Linked DNA regions of Homo sapiens: region 1 is linked to region 2. The links come from fine-mapping of genetic effects on plasma protein levels. Region 2 holds a variant in brackets. A gene starts in the other region. All regions are shown on their forward strands.

Region 1 (5,352 bases), not on the chromosome of region 2:
TACTGGGTCAGTGTGTGAGTCACTGCCATGAGCACACTGGTCGAGGCCTCTGGATTGGTCAGGCTGCAAAACACAGAGAACTCCAAGAGGCCTTCTCCCCAGGTGGCTGTGAGCCTGCTGTAGGGGTGCTCGGAGTCCGCCCTGCAAGGGGTCACAGCCAAAGGCCATCATGGGGACAGGGCCAGGGCACAGGCACACTCACTTGAGCAGGCGCATACCCGCTGTGGCTCCCAGGTAGAGGGGTGTGCCCGCGTGTCTCTCTTTGGGCACATCCTGAAGCGCCTGTTCGAGGCATCCAACAAGACTCTGGCTGGCCCCAGAAGGGTTGTCTGCATAGCTGGAGATGCCCCCACCTAGAGGGAGGCAGAGAGATGAGCCTATGCCTCACGGGCAGCCCCTAGGTGGGCCGTAGGCCAGGAGAGTGAGGGTGGGGGTGGGGGCCGTGGGCTCCCAGACCAGGTGGCACACCTTCCCTGCTTAAGCCCCCAGAAACGCCCAGGTTGGAGACAAAGGGGCCCAGGTGCCACCCGGAGACCAAGGCTGCTGCCTGCTGAGAGGGTGTGGGTGCAGGTGCTAGGACAAAGCCCTGGGCATGGTCAACCCAGGTTGGCCTCCTGAGGCCTGCCTGGGTGTGTCCGCCAGGCCCCCAGACCTCCTCCTGCTCCATCTGGGGCACAGAAGCCAATACTGGGCCCGGCGAGGCTCAAACCTCCCCACCTGCTGCCTAGGCTTCCTTTCTAGAATGCAAACGACTCCTGGCCCCACTCAGGCGCAGGGGCACCAGCCTCTCTCTTTCCAGGGCTTCTGCCTGGAGTGAGCCCCACCCAACACTAAGCAGAAGGACCTGCACTGGCTAAGGCTGGAGAGGGTCCCAGAGACCCTGCAGTGAGTGGGCGTCCTGGCTGGGCTGGGCTGGGCCTCACCTGGAACATCACAGGAGCTGTGCTGGCCCACAATGCCTGTGTCGTTCTCCTTGTCTGCCGGCCACTTGTAGATAAACATGGACGTGTGTGAAGAACCAGCGTCCAGGACGATGCCATACTGCGGGGGAGGGGGAGGGAGTCAGCCTGGGGTGTCCGGGGGCCCTGACACCCTGACACCAAACGTGAAGTTGGGTTCCTCCAGTTTGCCACCGCTCCCCCCCCCACCCAGTCATGTGCCAAGCCTCATGCTGAAGCTCAGAGGAGGCCAGGGCCTCCTCTGAGGCCGTGGTTGGAAGGAGAACAGGGAGGTGGTGGGGAGGTGACTCTTCCCTCCTGACTACCTGAAGCCAGCATGCCAGGGTCTGGGCAGCAGCCTTCCTGGCAAGGGCAGACTGAGGGACTGAGTCAGGGACAGAGGGACAGAGGGTCCCCAGGGACTTTTCCCTGGGGCACAAGTTTCCCAGGCTCAGGGAGAGGAAGCTCCTCTGCAAGAGGAGCTCCCTAGAGTCCCTCTTCCTTCCTCCCCTCTTCCTTCCTCCTCTGTCTCCTTCCAGCTCCTCTGACGGCAGCCCAACCTGAGGATGCAGGAGGCAGGGCCCCAGGTGAAGAAGGTCCACCGAGGCTGGCCGTGGGCCTCAGAGCCAGGTCAGCTCTAAAGACACTCTCCCTAGGCCTCCAAGCCAGGGCCAGAGAGAGAGGCTGGCCCTGCCTTGTTGGGGGTGCTGGGTGGGCCTTCCTGCAGACCTGAGTGGCACGAGCTTGTAAATGCCCTTTTCCAGCTCCTGCCCCAGCATCCTGGATCCACCTGGAAAGCTGGGGACCAGCCTCCCAGGCCCGGGCGCCAATTCCAGCCTCCGAGAGGGCCGCACCAGTCCATCCCGACCAAGGCTTCCCCAGAGCCCAGAGCATCAACAGGTCAGCGCGTGCACCGCCACATGGCCGTCCTGCAGGGCCGCAGAGCTCCCTGCTTCTGACTCCCCATCAGGCTGGGGGACTTGGCTCTCCACCCCACCCCCCTACAAGCCCAATAAAGGGTTAAAGGGGCCGACCAGGAGGTCCCTGGGCCTGCTGGAGTGGAGATCCAGGCTAGCCTGCTCCAACCTTTTGAGGACCGGCCAGGGCTGCTCCGGTCAAGCCCTCCTGTCTTTCTGGGCCACTCTCGTGTCCTGGCGGGGGCCCTGGGTCCTGGGGCTTGTGGATCCCCATCTGGGCTGAATACCCAGTCGATGTGGCTCTAACCGCACCCTCCGGGGCGGCGGCACAGGGCAGAAGTGGCCCGGAGTGCCCCTGGGGGCCCGCACAGGCCTGGGGGCGGGCGTCCGGCAGCACCCAGGGGGCATCGCTGGGCTATCCCGGGAGCGGGGACACAGCCCCTGGGCTGCGTTGACGGACTCGGCGGCGGGCGCGGAACTCCCGGGACTTGTTCCTTCAGCACCGCGTCGCCCTGGAAGCGCCACCGCCCCCCGCCCCCTCCGCGTACCCGGTCGGGGAGCGCAGAGCGCGGAACCCGGGACCCCACCCAGCCCGCCAGGAGCAGAGCACGGTGGGGGTCCCGGGCTGATCCTGCTCAGGTTCCCAGCCGCACCCCCTCCCCGGCTCCAAGCCCGGCCCGCTGCTCCCCAGACGTGCGCTGGGTGCCCGGGCGCGCACCTTGAGGGCGGGCGGCTCCCGGACGTCGCGGGTGGGGACGCACAGCAGTAGGAGGCCGGCGAGGCCCGCGGCGGCCAGCAGCAGCGGCGGCAGCAGTGACCGCACCTTCCCGGCCATGGGCGGGCGGGCGCGCGGGAGGACGATGCGTGGACCCGGAGAGTGCGGGGAGCCGGAGGCGGAGGCGGGCGGGGCCGCGGGACCGCGGGGTAGGGGCCCCGGGGCGGGACGAGGGGCGGGAGGCCGGGCGGGCCCGCCCATCACCGGCCACGCCCACGGGCGGACAGGTTTCGCCTCCGCTCCCAAGCTTCCGCCGTCCGGCCCGCGCAGGTGAGAGACGCGGGCGCGGCTGAGTCACCAGCACCGCCCCCCGGCTCCCGGGTCTGAGCCCGGGCGCCCCGCGGCTATGGCCCACCTTCCCCTTCCCGCCCACTCAGCAAGGGGATCCCCCGGCCGTGGAGGCAGGAGACCTGGCGTGGGGGTGGGCGGGCGAGGCTGGCTCGGAGGGTCCTGTGCTGGAGAGCCGCGCTTTTCCCGGGCCCGGGAAAGGAGGCCAGACTCGCTTGCAGGAATGAGGCACTGTCGGCTGCGGAGCCACGCGGGGCCCGGGCTGGGGACTCAGGAGGAAGCCGAGGGTCAGCACCTGTTTGTGGAGCAGGGCCCTGAGCGCCAACTCCCAGGGCTGGTGAGGACCAGGCTGGCCTGCGGGATGCCCTCCCGGCCAGCAAGGATCCGCCAGCCTGCGGCGCTGAGCCAGCGCAGGTCAGCTCCAGAGACACGCAGCTGACCCAGGCCAGAACTACCCTTGAGGCCCAGTCAGATCCACCTCACCTGGGCCCTGTACTGAGGTGAAGGTGAGGACGCAGGAACGGGGAAGGGGAGGGACGGCCCAGGTCACACCGAGCCGAGAAACAGGAGAAGCAGCACAGACCGGGCCAAAGGTCCATACCTCCCAGCCCAGGGCCTCAGCCGCGCCTGCTGCCCCCTCGGCCTGAGGGGAACAGAGGCTTGGGCTGCGGAGGCCAGAGGAGGCTTCCCCAGGACGGAAACAGGTGGGGCCTCTACGTGGCCTGAAAGGCAAGGAAGAGGGTCCCCAGGCCAAGCTTGGGGTGCGGGTCAGCAACAGGCTTCTGGGGACGGCTGGGGCAGGCGAAGCGCAGCTGGCCCCAGACGCAAGCCCTGCTCCTCCGTCCCACGACATGGCTGGCCTTTCGGCTCTGCAGCCTCACAGGCCCCGCATCCCAGCCCGGCCAGGGGCCACCCCCTTTGCGCCTGCTGCAAAGTGGGAATTCTTGTCCCAATAATTCCAGCCACACAGCGTCAGGGAGCCACGAGGCAAGGCCACCAGGGAGTGCAGGCTGCTGGGGCCCAAAGGGCAGCCCCATGGGGCAGGGTCCAGACCATGCCCGGCCTTCTGGAACGGGCAGTGACAATTGTGCTGGGATTGCTGCCTGGGCTGAGGGTCTGGCGCCACAGGCCCAGTAAAGGCATCTTTCTTCCAGCTCAGGACCCCAAAGGGAGGGGTGGGAACCCTGGGAAGCCTCTCTGCTGCCTCAGCCTCACAGCCCAGCCTGGCGGGGCTCCAGCAGGCAATCTCTGGGTGTTGCCGGTGCTAAGCTCCAGGCCCCAGGCCCCAGTTTCCCCCCACACACCCCAGGCCTTTCTTCCACCCCTGACCGCCCAGAGGAGGGAGAGGCACGCACAGTGCACATCATGCCTGAAAAGGAAGGAACAAAGGCCGCCCAGAGGCAGGGTGCTGCGACCCCCACTGGCCTGCGGTACCCCGCTTCCCTCCAGGCCCAGCGGGGCTTCCTGGTGTTCTGGACTCTTTTCATGGACAAAAAGCTCAAGCCAGGGAGTGGGAGGTCTGCCAGGCCTGAGAGGATGGGGAGGGAGAGGGGAGCTGGACTCTGCCCCGGGGAGACAGGCTCATGGCCGAGTGCCCAGCTTCGCCTGCGGAGGGAGAGGCAGGGAGCCCAGAGCGGCCAGGACAAAGGCTGAGGCTGAGCTCTCTTTGAGACGGAGTGAGGGCGGGGGAACGCCCCTTCCTGGCATGGACTCAGGGACCCTGGAAGGCAGACTTGGGAGAGCGTCAGAGGGAAGCTGGCAGGAGCTGAAGGGGTGGAGGGGCCTCTGGGTGGGGCAGCTCTCGGCTTCCAGGACCCTCTCGGGGATGGGGCCTCCAGATGTGCTGCACATGACCCCGGCTGAGCTGGGAACATGCGGATGCAGAGAGGTTAGGGGAGAACCCCTGGGGGAGGGAACTCGGAGCCTCCCGCCCACGCAGGGCTCAGACCTCCCAGGGAGGGGGGCTTTCCTGAGGCCTGCTGACATCTTGGCTGCCCTGCCTCAGTCTCCACATCAGAAGCTTGTGCTGTGTGGCTCACGTCTGTAATTCCAGCACTTTGGGAAGCTGAGGCAGGTGGATCACTTAAGGTCAGGAGTTCAAGACCAGCCTGGCCAACATGGTGAAACGCCGTCTCTAATAGAAATACAAAAATTAGCCGGTTGTGGGCCGGGCGCGGTGGCTCACTCCTGTAATCCCAGCACTTTGGAAGGCTGAGGCGGGCGGATCATCAGGTCAGGAGATCAAGACCATCCTGGCTAACGCAGTGAAATGCCATCTCTACTAAAAATACAAAAAATTAGCCGGGCGTGGTGGCGGGCACCTGTAGTCCCAGCTACTCGGGAAGCTGAAGCAGGAGAATGGTGTGAACCCGGGAGGCGGAGCTTGCAGTGAGCCAAGATCGCGCCACTGCACTCCAGCCTGGGTGACAGAGCG
Region 2 (5,340 bases):
CTGATCGGCGCCACTGCTGTCCTGCTGGCTTCCGCTGCGCAGCCAGGGGTACCAAGTGTTTGCGCAGGGAGGCCCCGCGCTGGGACGCCCCTTTGAGGGACCCAGCCTTGAGACAGCTGCTGTGAGGGACAGTACTGAAGACTCTGCAGCCCTCGGGACCCCACTCGGAGGGTGCCCTCTGCTCAGGCCTCCCTAGCACCTC[C/T]CCCTAACCAAATTCTCCCTGGACCCCATTCTGAGCTCCCCATCACCATGGGAGGTGGGGCCTCAATCTAAGGCCTTCCCTGTCAGAAGGGGGTTGTGGCAAAAGCCACATTACAAGCTGCCATCCCCTCCCCGTTTCAGTGGACCCTGTGGCCAGGTGCTTTTCCCTATCCACAGGGGTGTTTGTGTGTGTGCGCGTGTGCGTTTCAATAAAGTTTGTACACTTTCTTAACAGTGTCTGATTTGCCGCCCTGCCTGCCCTCCCCAGGGCCCCAGAACAGGGGTTCACGTCCACTGCCAACACTCCCCTCCCCTACCCCACAGAAAGACATACACAGCCTTAACCTCACCAGTTTTATATTTGCTGCTGCCCACATCGGCTGTATCACATTACCCCCTAGTCCCCAGAGCTGTCCCAGCCACCAGCCCTGTGACATCGTAGCCCAGAGATGGGCTAGTCAGCAAGCAGCACCCCCTCCCCTCCCAGGGGTCCACAAAGAACGCCCCCTCCCTTCCCAGCCCTCACACTAGCAGCTGAGGCTGGGTCACCCCTCCTGCTTTCCCACAATAGAGCTTTCTATGTACAGCCACGTCTACACAGGCACTGCTTCCCCCCAGCCCTCCTCCCCGGCACCTCCCCGTGGGGGTCTGGACCCCCCCTCCTCCCCGGCTTGGAGGCAGACACAGGGTCCCTTGCAAGACACGACCCAGCACCAACCACGGAACAGCTCCAAGGCCCCTGGGCCCCTCTCCGGCCTGGGGCTGGGAGCTACGCGCGAGGGCCCCCGCGGGCCCCCGGGGCGCGCACCCTGGGTGCGGGCCCGCGCGGGAGGGGCGGTGCCAGGCCCTGCGCGGGCGCTACTTGACGTTGAACACCATCAGCGGCCGCTCCTCCCGCCGCTGCCACGGGCTCTTCTTGTCTCCCGCCTCGTCGCCCACCTCCGCCCCCAGCTCGTCCTCCGGGCTGGTGAGCGAGTCGCGCCGCAGCTCGCTGGCGCTGCTGCGGGAGCTGTCCCCGCGGCTGCGGCCCCGCCCCCGGGGTACCGTGGCCGCCCGGCCCTCGGGCGCCGCCACCTCGTCCAGCAGCGGCGTCAGCGAGTTGTCCTCCGGAGAGCAGAGGCCCGTGCGGCTCTCGCTGCTGCTGGGCTCCGTGTCCTCGCTGAGCGCCAGGCGCGGGGGCGCGGGCGGCGGCGGCGGCGCGGCAGGCGGGGCGCGCTCCCGCTCCTCCCTCGCGGGCCGGCGGCGCGCGGGCCGCGCCTCGTGGACATCTACGCCCGAGTCCAGGCTGGCGTCGGTGCTGCGTGCCCCGCCGCCCGCCTGCAGGTCGATGTAAGAGTGGCGCACTTGCGAGTTGGAGCGCCCGTCGAGGGACACGAACCAGGCGCGCGGGTGCGGCTTCACGCCCAGTTCCAGCAGCTTCTTCTCGGTCAGGGCCTGCAGCTCCCCGTTGAGCTGCGCCATGGTGGACTCGTTGAATAGCACAGGGATGGTGACTGAGCCACTGACGGGCGCCGCGCGCCCGGCCCCCCAGCCCTCGCCGCCGCCCCCGCCGCCCTCGCCCCCCGGGCCCGAGTGGCCCGGCATCTGCGGGCGCTGGGGGTCGGGCTGGGGAAAAGCGCGCGCCGGGCCGGGTGCCGTGCCCTCCGGCGGGGCCGGCTCGTCGCCCACGCCGGCGGCGCCCGCCTCGCCGCCGAGGCGCACGTAGTGCGCGGGGATCACCAGGGTGGGCATGACGTTGCGGTAGACGTTGTCCTTGAGGTGGTCGATGGAGCCGCAGAAGATGAGCTGCCCCGCCTGGCCCAGCGACGGCGGCCGCGCCAGCTGGTCCACCGACTGCGACAGCAGGAAGTCGGGGGTCTTGCCCTCGGCCGCCCCCTTGTGGCCCAGGTAGTGGTCGAAGGGCGGCGGCGGCGAGGGCGGCTCGTGCAGGAAGGCCGCAGCCCCCGAGGGCCCCCGCCGGTGCTCCTCTAGGCCGGGCTCCAGCCCGCCGGGGCCCTCGGCCGAGCGAGCGCCCTTGAGCCCGGCGCTCTCGCCCCCGCGGGCACCCGAAGGCTCGGCGGCCGGGCGGCTGGCAGAGCGCGGCTTGGTGCGGAAGAAGTCATCCCGGGAGGAGGCCAAGTCCCGGGAGCTGGAGAAGGCCGAGTGGAGGGGGCCTGGAGGCGGAGCCTCGGGGTCCCCCGACGGGGCGGGTTCCAGGGGTCCCCCACAGATGAGGTGGAGCTGGGACATCGAGGTGGCCTGGTCTCGTTTGTTACCGTCAGAGGGCCCCGAGAGCTGCAGCTTGCGGTGCTGTTGCCTCGGCTTCAGGCAGCGCCTCCTGGAAGGGAGGGAGCAGAAGGGGCCGCTCAGGAAAGGGTGAGGGCCAAAGTAGGCCCCGAACCCCCTTAGATGCAAGACAAGAGACGAATATAGTGGAAGAGGTGGGGAGAATGCCTGGGGCGCTCAGGAGAGATGGCGGGGAGCCGCCGTGTCCGTTTGGCGATCCCCTCAGGGTCAACTCTGCACTCCTCTGCATGTAGGATGTGCTGCGAGAACCAGGGATGAGCATCTAAGCTGTCTATGGGTGTGTCCGGCCTGGAGTCCTCTGGGAGAGAGAGCTGGGCTGGTAGGGGCAGTGGCAGATCTCTCTGGAGGGGCCGGGCTGCAAGTCCTTAAGCCCTGCCTCCCCTCCCACCTCCCCGCTGTCTTCAACCACCAGCACCAGCCCTTCAGGTCTTAGCATGTTTGCAGGAAGTCTTTTCCTGTCTGCCCCTTGAGGACCAGAAGTGGATTTTATGCATCTTTGGGGCCCCAGGGCCCGGTACAAGTGCAGGGGAGGGTGAGGGAAGCCCCGTGCTCACCGGCAGTAGTAGATGAGCAGACACAGCAGGATAAGCACCAGCAGGGCCAGGGCTGCCAGGATGGTGAGCAAGAAGATGGTGTGGTAGGTGCCGATGTCCTGGATGCCCGACGTGATGGTGACCAGCCCTGTGCCAGGCGAGGGCTTAGCGTTCAGGTGTAGACACCCTTCCTGCCTTTCAGAAGTCTGCTCTCCCAGCTCCCCTCCTCCGCGGCCTCTACGCCCACTGCCCCACTACTCTTACCAGCCGTGGGGGAGGCCATGGCGGCCACCCAGTACCCCAGCTGGGGGGAGACGAAGGTCCAGTAGAGCTGCCGGCCTTCCTTCCGGATTACACCAGTGCCATTGCGCACCCACAGCCCTGGGAGAGGCAGGGGTTTTGTCACACTTGAGTCGCTCCCACTCAAGTCCCACTTTCTTCTCTCAACTCAAGCACCTGCAGCCCCCTGAGGCACTTACCACTCTTGGGGTCAAATCTCCAGGCTGGAATGCTGGTGCCCACGGTGAGGGCACGAGTCTCGGAGGGCACGGGCAGGGACAGGTGAATGGGGCCTGAGAGCGGCACCTCTGTCCCATTACCTGTCAGCAGGTGCACGCTCACAGCAGTCAGGGGCATCAGCTCCAGCCAGGAGCCATTGCCTGAGGGAAGAGGGTACAGGGCTGAGGGCTGATCCTGAGCCTGGGGAGACCCCATCCGTGCTGGGCACCCAGCCTACCTGAGCTGGAGGCCTCAGTGCCCAGGAAGGCAGGGAAAGCCCGCATTTCCTGCTGGGTGCTGGCAGGCGTAAGTGACGCCCAGAGCTGGCTGTAGGTGGAGCTGACAGGCAGGCGGGCAGCCCGGCGCTGGAACTGCACCAAGGGCTGGGAGCGGGCACCTGGAGGGAAAGAGGGGCTGCAGTGGCTTGACCATGGACAGGGATCCCCAGGGACCAGAGCAGAAACCCATTATCTAAGGAAAAGGGGGACATGAGGTCAGGCCACTTTGGAAGGCCAGGGAGGGTGATGCCTTGGGGAGAAAGCTGGGCAGTCATGGAATGTTAACCTGGAAGGGACATGGACCTGAAATCTCTGTGTGACCCTCAGCAATTTACTTGTTTTAGTAGAAAGTTTCCTTATAGAACCTATAAAATGTTGCGATCCAGATCCTCAAACAGTATTGTCTACTATGTGGCAGGCACCAGGTTAGACACTGGGGGCCCAAAGATGAACGTCTGCTGTGATGGGAATGTTTTCTAGGTGTGCTGCCCATTATGGTACCCACTGGACACACGTGGCTGTTAAGCATTTGAAATGTGGCTAGTGTGACTGAGGAACTGGATTTTTAATTTTTAAAAATGTAATGATTTTTTTCTAGGTGGGTGCAGTGGCTCATGCCTATAATCCCAGCACTTTGGGAAGCCAAGGTGGGTGGATCACCTGAGGTCAGGAGTTGGAGACCAGCCTGACCAACATGGAGAAACCCTGACTCTCTTAAAAATACAAAATTAGCTGGGTGTGGTGGTGCATTCCTGTAATCCCAGCTGCTCGTGAGGCTGAGGCAGGAGAATCACTTGAAACTGGGAGGGGGAGGTTGCGGTGAGCTGAGATTGTGCCATTGCACTCCTGTCTGGGCATCAAGAGCGAAACTCCATCTCAAAAGAAAAAAAAAAAAAAGGCCGAGCGCGGTGGCTCACGCCTGTAATCCCAGCACTTTGGGATTCCAAGGCAGGTGGATCACGAGGTCAGGAGTTCAAGACCAGCCTGGCCAAGATGGTGAAACCCCATCTCTACTAAAACTACAAAAATTAGCCAGGTGCGGTGGCAGGCGCCTGTAATCCCAGCTACTCGGGAGGCTGAGGCAGGAGAATCGCTTGAACCCAGGCAGCAGAGGTTGCAGTGAGCCAAGATCATGCCATTGTACTCCAGCCTGGGCAACAGAGTGAGAATCCATCTCAAAAAAAAAAATTAATGAATTTTTAATTTAATTTACTTCAATTTAATATGTAGCTAGTGGCTACTGCATTAGACAGTTTAGGTCGTGTGTGTGTGTGTGTGTGTGTGTGTGTTGGGGTGGAGGGGACAGACATACAAACAATTCCAATACAATATGGTCACAGCTAACATTTATTAATCTTTAAGCTATGCTGGGCACTGTTCTAAGCAGGTTACCTATATTAACCCCTGCAATTAGGAAAATAGCCCCTGAGCTAGGTATCTATTATCAACCTCATTTTAGAGGTGCAGAAATGGAGGCACAGGGGTTCAGTAACTTGCACGAGGTCACAATCCTCGAGCCCGGATAGAAGCCCAGGCCATCGGGC

Direction of the effects. Positions count from the first base shown, and alleles are read on the strand shown. Strength reflects both the effect of a copy and how common the allele is.
For the plasma level of the protein whose gene starts at base 2,754 in region 1, T is the high allele of the variant in region 2 and C is the other (weak association).

What was found. PIP is the posterior inclusion probability: the model's chance that the variant is causal. Protein levels are from antibody-based Olink assays in UK Biobank. Linkage for the fine-mapping came from a reference panel and not from the study's own genotypes, which makes the PIPs less certain.
Region 1: ENTPD2 starts here. The variant in region 2 is fine-mapped to the plasma level of the ENTPD2 protein (UK Biobank, PIP above 0.99).

Annotation. Positions count from the first base shown.
Region 1 is chr9:137,051,308-137,056,659 of GRCh38, forward strand. ENTPD2 (ectonucleoside triphosphate diphosphohydrolase 2) reads right to left here and starts at 2,754. Exons shown (of 9, transcript NM_203468.3): 1 at 2,574-2,754; 2 at 924-1,041; 3 at 203-353; 4 at 1-63. The coding sequence starts at 2,690. It overlaps LOC105376327 (a long non-coding RNA gene), which reads left to right and starts at 1,038. Exons shown (of 2, transcript XR_930455.2): 1 at 1,038-1,568; 2 at 1,703-2,068. RefSeq lists silencers at 2,740-2,809, 2,910-2,989.
Region 2 is chr17:44,352,674-44,358,013 of GRCh38, forward strand. It overlaps GRN (granulin precursor), which reads left to right. Exons shown (of 13, transcript NM_002087.4): 13 at 1-433. The coding sequence ends at 125. FAM171A2 (family with sequence similarity 171 member A2) reads right to left here. Exons shown (of 8, transcript NM_198475.3): 4 at 3,757-3,915; 5 at 3,500-3,679; 6 at 3,285-3,401; 7 at 3,042-3,168; 8 at 542-2,518. The coding sequence ends at 1,060. Among named protein-coding and RNA genes, the nearest start is that of FAM171A2, 8.5 kb to the right of the region's middle. RefSeq lists silencers at 965-1,034, 2,065-2,114. The variant C/T (reference allele first, on the strand shown) is at 203.